3 separate regions of the Homo sapiens genome follow, and all the other regions are linked to region 3. Evidence: fine-mapped expression QTL. A gene starts in region 3. Each other region holds a variant in brackets. All regions are shown on one strand. Distances are from middle to middle. Region 1 overlaps IL16 (interleukin 16). Region 2 overlaps IL16 (interleukin 16). Region 3 holds the start of IL16 (interleukin 16).

Evidence for each region. PIP is the estimated chance that this variant, and not a neighbour inherited with it, causes the effect. A credible set is the group of variants that fine-mapping cannot tell apart.
Region 1: its variant is the best candidate, but not a certain one, in a credible set for the expression of IL16 in monocytes (Quach 2016, PIP 0.55).
Region 2: its variant is the best candidate, but not a certain one, in a credible set for the expression of IL16 in subcutaneous fat (GTEx, PIP 0.74).

The regions. Positions count from the first base shown.
Region 1 is chr15:81,287,864-81,290,532 of GRCh38, forward strand. IL16 (interleukin 16) reads left to right here. Exons shown (of 19, transcript NM_172217.5): 11 at 2,590-2,669. Among named protein-coding and RNA genes, the nearest start is that of STARD5, 35 kb to the right of the region's middle. The variant A/ATGTGTGTG (reference allele first, on the strand shown) is at 966.
Region 2 is chr15:81,246,459-81,249,127 of GRCh38, forward strand. All of the region lies in intron 2 of IL16 (interleukin 16), which reads left to right. Among named protein-coding and RNA genes, the nearest start is that of IL16, 51 kb to the left of the region's middle. The variant T/A (reference allele first, on the strand shown) is at 1,212.
Region 3 is chr15:81,195,273-81,197,941 of GRCh38, forward strand. IL16 (interleukin 16) reads left to right here and starts at 1,607. Exons shown (of 19, transcript NM_172217.5): 1 at 1,607-1,880.

The DNA of each region.
Region 1 (2,669 bases), 93 kb after region 3:
ACAAATAATTGGCCTAAATCTCTGGACAATACAAGAAAAGAAAGAGGTCCCAATTAATTTGTCATTTCCTCCTGCTGCTTTTAGGACTACGGCAGAAAATCAGTGGAGTAGGGCGTCAGGTTGTGGGCAAATGCTGTAGCCCTGGGCTTAAGGAATGTGCATTCTCCCAGAGACATGGGACACACACAGAGAGGCCACAGAGGTGAGGGCCTTGAGAGTGAGGGAGCTGGAGTTCCAGCTGCTCAGATAAGGGAGCCAGGCCAGAAAGGACAGGTAAGGTTTAGAGCAGCAGAAAGACGAAGACACCCTAGGCCGTGGAGATCCAGGGGCACAGGCATAGGGCAGAGAGAAGAGAGCCAGGCCCAGCAGCAGAATGCCTGGCATGTGTCCAGTCTGCTGCTTGCTTATGGTTAATTTGGGCAACTCATCTAACCTCCAAGAGCCTCTGGTTCCTCAACTCTGACATAGGGGAGTGGTCTTTACCTTACAGGACTGTTGTGGATGGTAACTCTCCTCTAGTAAGAGTTTACCATCTGCCAGGCATTGTGCCGCAGACTTTAAATGATTTATTTATTGTTGTTTATTGTGGTAAAATACACATAACATAAAATTTACCATCTTAACCATTTTTTAAGTGTACAGTTCAGTGGCATTAAGGACATTCTCATTGTTGTGCAACCATTGCCACCATCCGTCTCCAGAACTCTTTCCATCTTTCAGAATTTAAACTCTACCAGTTAAACAAGTCCCTATGTTCTCCTACCAGCAAATCCTGGGAACCACCATTTTACTTTCTGTCTCTGTGATTTTGACTACTCTACGTTCATCGAAGTGGAATCATATAAAATGGGTCCTTTTGTGTCTGCCTTATTTGACTTCGCGTAATGTCCTCAAGGTTCATTTATGTTGTAGCACGGGCCAGAATTTCCTTCCTTTTTAAGGTCGAATAATCTTCTAGTATGTGT[A/ATGTGTGTG]TGTGTGTGTGTGTGTGTGTGCGTGTGTGTGTATCACATGCTGTTTATCATCTGTTTTTGGGTACTTGGGTTGTTTCCACCTTTTGACTATTGTGAATAATGCTACAATGAACGTGGAGTACAGATTCCTCTGAGATACTGACTTCCCTTCTTTTAGGGTATATACCCAGAAGTGGAATTGCTGGGTCATATGGTAATTCTATTTTTAAGTTTTTGAGGAGCCTTCAAACTATTTTCCACAGTGGCTACACCATTTTACATTCTTATCAACAGAGCCCAAGGGTCCCGATTTCTCCATATCCTTGCCAATACTTTGTTATTTTCTTTTCTTTTTTTGAGACTGAGTCTCACTCTGTCACCCAGGCTCGAGCGCAGTGGCACGATCTTGGCTCACTGCACTGGGTTCAAGTGATTCTCCCACCTCAGCCTCCCTAGTAGCAGGGATTATAGGTGTGTACCACTGCACAGGCTAATTTTTGTATTTTTAGTAGCGATGGGCTTTCACCATGTTGGTCAGCCTGGTCTCGAACTCCTGACCTCAAGTGATCTGCCTGCCTCAGCCTCCCAGAGTGCTGGGATTAGAAGCATGAGCTACCATGCCCAGCCTCTTTTCTTTTTGTTTATAGTAGCCATCCTAATGTCCTAATGTGTGTGAGGTGGTAACTCAGTGTGGTTGTGATTTGCATTTACCTAATCATTAGTGATGTTGAGCATTTTTTCATTTGCTTTTTGGCTGTTTGTATATCTTCTTTGAAGAAATGTCTATTCAGGTTCTGTGCCCAGTTTTTAATCAGGTTGTTTTGTTGTTGTTGTTGTTGCTGAGTTGTAGGAGTTCTTTATATAATCTGCAACTCAACTATTTATCTGAAATATGATTTGCGAATATTTTCTCCAATTCTATGAGTTGCCTTTTCAATCTGTTGATGATGTCCTTTTGATGCACAGAAGTTTTTGATTTTCACATAGTCCAATTTATCTATTTTTTTGTTTCCTGTACTTTTGATGTCAAATAATTTATTTTTAAAAAACCTGTCCTCATTTTGAAGTGGGTTTTATTATTGTTATTATTTTACAGAAGGAAGAAATGGAGGCTCAGGAGGTTAAGTAACTTGTCTAGGTGTTCACACCTAGACAGTAGAGGAACCGGGACTAGAACACAAGCCTTTTTGACTCTAGGACTCATACTCTTAACTATTACTCCAAAGTGATAATAAACTGTGAGTCACAGCTCAGACAGTATAATAGTGATTGTGATTATTACGATATTGTTGATAATGATGATGTCATGACAGCATTGCCAAGAACGGACTAGCTCATAGAGATAACCTATGAAGTGGTAACTTTGCCTAGAATTTTCCAGCAAGTAGTGGGGAGAAGGTTGGAGAGTTGAGGGGGCCTCCTTGGGAACCCCTGCATTGATAGACTTTGGACTTTATCTAGAAGATACTGAGGAACCATTGATTCCCGGGGTATTTCTGGAAATGGAATTCATCAGCTATTTGCAGAGTGGGTTGAAATAAAATAATTTAGAATCCAGTGGCCCAGCTTTGGAGCTGGTACGGGGCTGGGAGCCTGATGCAGGAGCTTCTACTGTTTGTTTGAGGAGATGACTGATATTTTCTAGGTCTCTGAACAGCAACTCAAAGAAGCTGTGGCCCAGGCTGTGGAAAACACCAAGTTTGGAAAGGAGAGGCATCAGTGGAG
Region 2 (2,669 bases), 51 kb after region 3:
TTAATCTGTTAAAGTGGTAAATGATTTCATTTATTTTCCAGTGTTCAACAAATCTTTGAATCCCTGGATTCAGTCGACTATGATTTTATTTGTAATTTTTATATTCATGAGTGTGATGGCCTTGGAATTTTTCTCCTGTACTGGTTCCAAGGTTACACTGACCTCACACTGATACCATGCTCATCTCTTTTACTGATATCAATGTTTTCTTTTTACTTGCCAGGTAACTAAGTTTGCCACCCTTCTAAAATGTGAGGTGTGGTTTCTCATTATCTACATTCTGGAATTCGTATTCTAGGTTTGGAATTATTTATTTCTTCAATGATTTATAGAACTTACTGTTTAAAACCATCTGGTACCAGTGTTTTCTTTGTGGAAAGAGTTAAAACCACTCTGTTTCTTTAATTTTTACAGGCCCCTAAAAGTTTCCTTGTCTTTCTTGAGTTGATTTTGATACAGTTTATTTTCCTCAGAACTTTCTCATTTAATCTAGTTGTTCAAATTTATGCTATACAGTTATTTGTAATATCTTCTTGTCATCTTTTAATCTTTACTGTATTTGTAATTGTGTCCCCTTTCAACCCTCATTTTATTTGTGTTTTCTTTCTTTTCTTTTCCTTTTTTTTTTTTTTTTTTTTGATCTTGAGTGACCTTGCTGGAGCGTCATCAGTATTTTAAAATCTTTTCACAGAACCAGCTTATAATTTTGTCAACTCCCCTATTATACGTGTATTTTTATTTAATAAATTTTGTCCATATCTTTATCGTTTTCTCTACTTTCTTTGATGATTAGCCCATTATTTTCAGCTTTTCTTCCTTTTTAATATAAGCACTTGAGATAACTTTTCCTGTAAGCACTGTTTTATCTTTAGCTGCATTCCACAAGATTTAATATGTAAAATTTTATTATCATTCAGTTCTAAATGCCTTTAAATTTCCAGTATGATTTCTTCTTTGACCCATGAGTTATTTGGAGGTATGTTTCTTGATTTTCAAATATGTAGTTATTTTCCAGTTACCTCGAAGACAAAAATCAAAACCTTTTTCTTTTCGAGTAACTACATATTCACAAGAAGTTGCAAAGATAGTACAGAGAAATCTCATGTACCCTTCACCCAGTTTTCCCCATTGGTTCCCTCTTACATAACTATAGTAAAACATCAAAACCACAAATTTGACATTGCTATGGTGTGTGTGTAGTTCTATGCTAT[T/A]TTATCACTTGTAACCTCTACTTCAGCGAAGATACCAAAGTGCTCCCTCGCCACTAAGATCTCCCTAATGCCACCCTTCAGAATCACACCCCACCCCTCTTCCCACCATCCTTAACCTCTAGCAGCAACTCATCTGTTTTCTCTCTCCCCAGTTAACATTTTTAAGTGCCTTATAATTAATTGTGGTGTTGTCAGAAAGCATGGAGTGGGTCATTCCAGTTATTCAGAATTGTTGAGAATTATTTGATGACCCCGTATAAGATTATTTTCATATTTTGTTTATGTTTAAAGAGACATTGTATATAGCTATTAACCTTACTGCTTTTTGTCTGCTTGATCTATCAGTTTCTTAAGGAGTCGGTTAAAAATCTCATGCTAGATTTTCCTTTTAGTTATTTCAGCATTATGAGGCTATGTTATAAGGTGCGAACATTTAGAATTGTTATATATTCTTTATGATTGAAAGCAGTTATAATTTATATCCTGAGTTTATCTCTATTATTTTTGTTTGAATCTACCTTGTCTATAAAGTGGTACTAGCTTTAATTTTATTAGCAGTTGTCTGAGCTATCTACCCACCTATCTGTCTATGTCTGTATCTATCTACTTCTATCTAGTTTTTATTCTTTTGTTTTCAACTACACACACACCTACTTATGTATGTGTGAATGTGTATGTGAATGACTTTTTCTTTTTGAACTGTTTGTCTTCTTTTATTTTACCTGTATATTTCTTAAATGGTTTATGGTTGGATTTACAATGTAAATCTGTCTTGACAATCTTTGCTTCTTAGATGAATCTCTTTAAAATTATTTTTATTATTATATTTAAAATTATTAAAAATTATCTTTAAAATTATATTTATCTTTAAAATTATATTTAACCTCTTAAATTATAAGTAAAATTATTTCATGTTTAATACTTATTCCATTTTCCCTGTTTTATTCTCTGCTTTCTTATCTTTTTATTGATTATATTTTCTCATTCCCTTTCTCCTCCTCTATTGATTCTGTTTCTAATTCTATTTCTGTGATTTTTTTTCTTTCTTTCTTTTTTTTTTTTTTTTTTTGAGGCAGAGTCTCACTCTATCACCCAGGCTGGAGCGCAGTGGTGCAGTCTCCATTCACGGCAAACTCCACCCCCTGGGTTCAAGCCGTTCTCCTGCCTCAGCCTCCCAAGTGGCTGGGATTACAGGCGCCCACCACCACACCTTGCTAATTTTTGTATTTTTAGTAGAGTTGGGGTTTTGCCATGTTGCCCAGGCTGGTCTTGAACTCCTGAGCTCAAGTGATCTGCCCGCTTCTGCATCCCAAAGTGCTGGGATTACAGACAGACATAAGCCACCGCACCTGGACCTATTTCTGTGATTTTATGGTGAACTCAGAAAATTTGGCATGTATATGAAGGTTTTCAAAGTGCAAAAGTTATTAATTTTTACTTTTACCCTCTTCCTGAATA
Region 3 (2,669 bases):
ATCCAAGAAGGGCAAGGCCAGCCCCCATAGCCCTGGGGTGCTGAATTGCTCCTCAGCCTCTCTGCCAGAGCAAGATGGAAGTGGGGCCTGAGTCTGTCCTGGCCCCACCGCACCCAGGCCATTGTGAGAGAGATTGTGGGTGTGAGCTGAGCAGGCGACACTGACAGAGGCGCTCACTCTCTGCAATTTAGAAATTCCTTCACTGCACTCCAGACTCACTCCAGACTCAGCCCTACAATGTCCCCTGTGCCTGCTGACAAAGGCAGCTTTATCCCCAGAGTGCTCCCTCCTCCCGTGCTTCCCTTGGGACCGTGGGCCTGTGTTCTCCAGCAGCAGCGGCTAGATCTTTGCAGCCTTGCATGGAATTTCAAGGGCTTCCTACAGGTTGCACCTACACCCTCATTAAAGCCCCCAGGAAGCCCTGAAACATTTGGTGCTGAGCGTTGGGAAACATTCCATTCTTTAGAAGAGAGGTCCATACAAAAACCTCAGCCTAGCATGTACACAGGGCTCACAGAGACTGAGCTTAGGAGAGATGTGTGGGATGCTCTTTGCGGGGCAGATGGATTAAATGCCACCTTATGATTAGATTCTCCAAGGGGCTACGTGGGGGAAAGGCACTCTGGTCTCATGACACTAATGCCAACAGGACACACACAAAAGTGCCCCATTCTTTTATGCTGCAGTTTTCAACATGCTCTGTATACGTTAGGTCATGGGCTCTCGCACCTGAGCACGCACCAAAATCACCTGGAGGCTTTGTGAAAACAGAGTGCCAGAGGTGCTGCTTCAGGAGGTCTAGGCCAGGGCCTGAGAACTTGCATTTCTAGCAGATGCTGCTGATGCAGCTGGCTTGAGGACCACTGAGTTACATAAGCTTCTGAGAGCCAGTCTGTTGTTTTTGGGAAAGGGTGGCACAGACAAGAAATGAAATGCTATGGAAAAAGCCTGGGCTTTGGAGACAGGTGGATTTTGACTTGCTAACTTGCTAACTGTGTGACCTTGGGGAAATTCCACGGCACGTAGTAGGTGTTTAATGAACGTTTGTGCAGTGGCTTTCTTTGTCTGCAAAGCAGGTGATATATTTACCAGATTGATGGCAGGATTGTATGTGATGACTTTTTTCCTCTTTTTATTAAATTTTTATATAATTTGAGAGGAGTTCTTGCTATGGTTTGCCCGGGCTTGTCTTGAATCCCCCGGCTCAAGTGATCCTTCTGCCTCAGCCTCCTGAGTAGCTGGGATTATAGGCACGTGCCACAGCTTCCAGCATGTGATGAGGTTTATAGAAAGCTCCTAGCAGCGTGCCAGGCACATTGCAGGCACCGAGTCATGTCTGCTACCTTTCGGCTCTCCTAGTCATTTCTGTGTTGTCCAAAGAAGGCAGGGGCAACTGGGCTGGACCAAGGAACCTCACTGTGGTTCTGTGGCTCTGCACTGGGTTTGCCTCCTGGGTGTTGCCGGCCAGCCCAGCAGATGGTGGACCTTGTTCTGAGGCTGAGCTTCTCAGCACTGGCAGCCCCCCTTTTTGGATCAAGCCTTTTCACGTGGAGCAGTCAGATGGCTCAGATCAGGAGTCTTCGAGCAAATCCATGCCAGGTGGGACACATTTGTCCTGAGTCACCTGTCCAGAGCAGGTGGTGAATATTGTGTCCTACTCACGGCATCTCAACTATCGGAGCCTGGGATCTGACTCAAAGGCCGGCCTCCGTCTGAGAACTGAGCGTCCATTTCTCAATCCTTGCCGGCTCTGACCCAGGCCTGGGCCACAGGCTGTCCGGGAATAAGTGGTGCTGCAATCCCTGCTGGGCAGATGGAGAGAGGAGCAAGGGAGATGGCAGCCCCGGGGGACTGTGCATAGGGAGGTAGGTGGGCACCAGGTGAGTGAATGTCTGTCAGGCAGCTGCTCTGTCCAGGTGGCCGTTACCGGAGGGAGGAAGCTGGCCTCTCTGACCTGAATGGGGAGGGTCTTGGTTGCTAGGACGTAACTTCATATTTGGAAGTGGTGCTGGGGTCAGGGGCAGGAGCAGAAGCCAGGATTGTGTTGGTAGGAATCTCTGTGTCACCATGTCACAGTTAGGTACAGGAGGAAGCAGCTTCAGAAGGCCAGAGCGGGCAGAGGGATATCGCTTGACCTGGCTCTGCAGCACGGGGAGAATTTGGTCCTGAGATTTCTGACTTTTCAGCCTCGTCTCATCCTTGGCAATGGGGTGTGGAAGGAGGTGGAGGAAAGGAAGGCAGCAGGAGAGAGAAAGGCCACGGGGCACCTGATGGGGGCTTCTCTGCTGCCTGGCCAGACTCCTTTTCTCCAAAGTGGGCACAGCGGGTGGGCATCTCTGCAGATTGACCATGGGAAAAGTGTTCACTCTGCTTGCTTTTTGATAAGGGTCCCGTGACTAATTCCTGCATTGGTAGGTCCCAGGATTGGTGTTTTTTTGTTTTTGTTTTTTGTTTGTTTGTTTTTTTCTTTTTTGGTCCATAGCAAGTTTGCTTTCTGTAGCTGGAGAATGAGGTAACAGCATAAGAATAGAGGTTCCCTGTGGAATACAGGGAAGCATCTTCTCCTCCTGCCCTTATCAGGTGAAATCCTCCCACTTCAGGCTGAGCCATACAAAGACGACCCCTTTGTCCCAGGAGGCCAGTTCAAGCTCCCACTGGGTTCCTGGAAG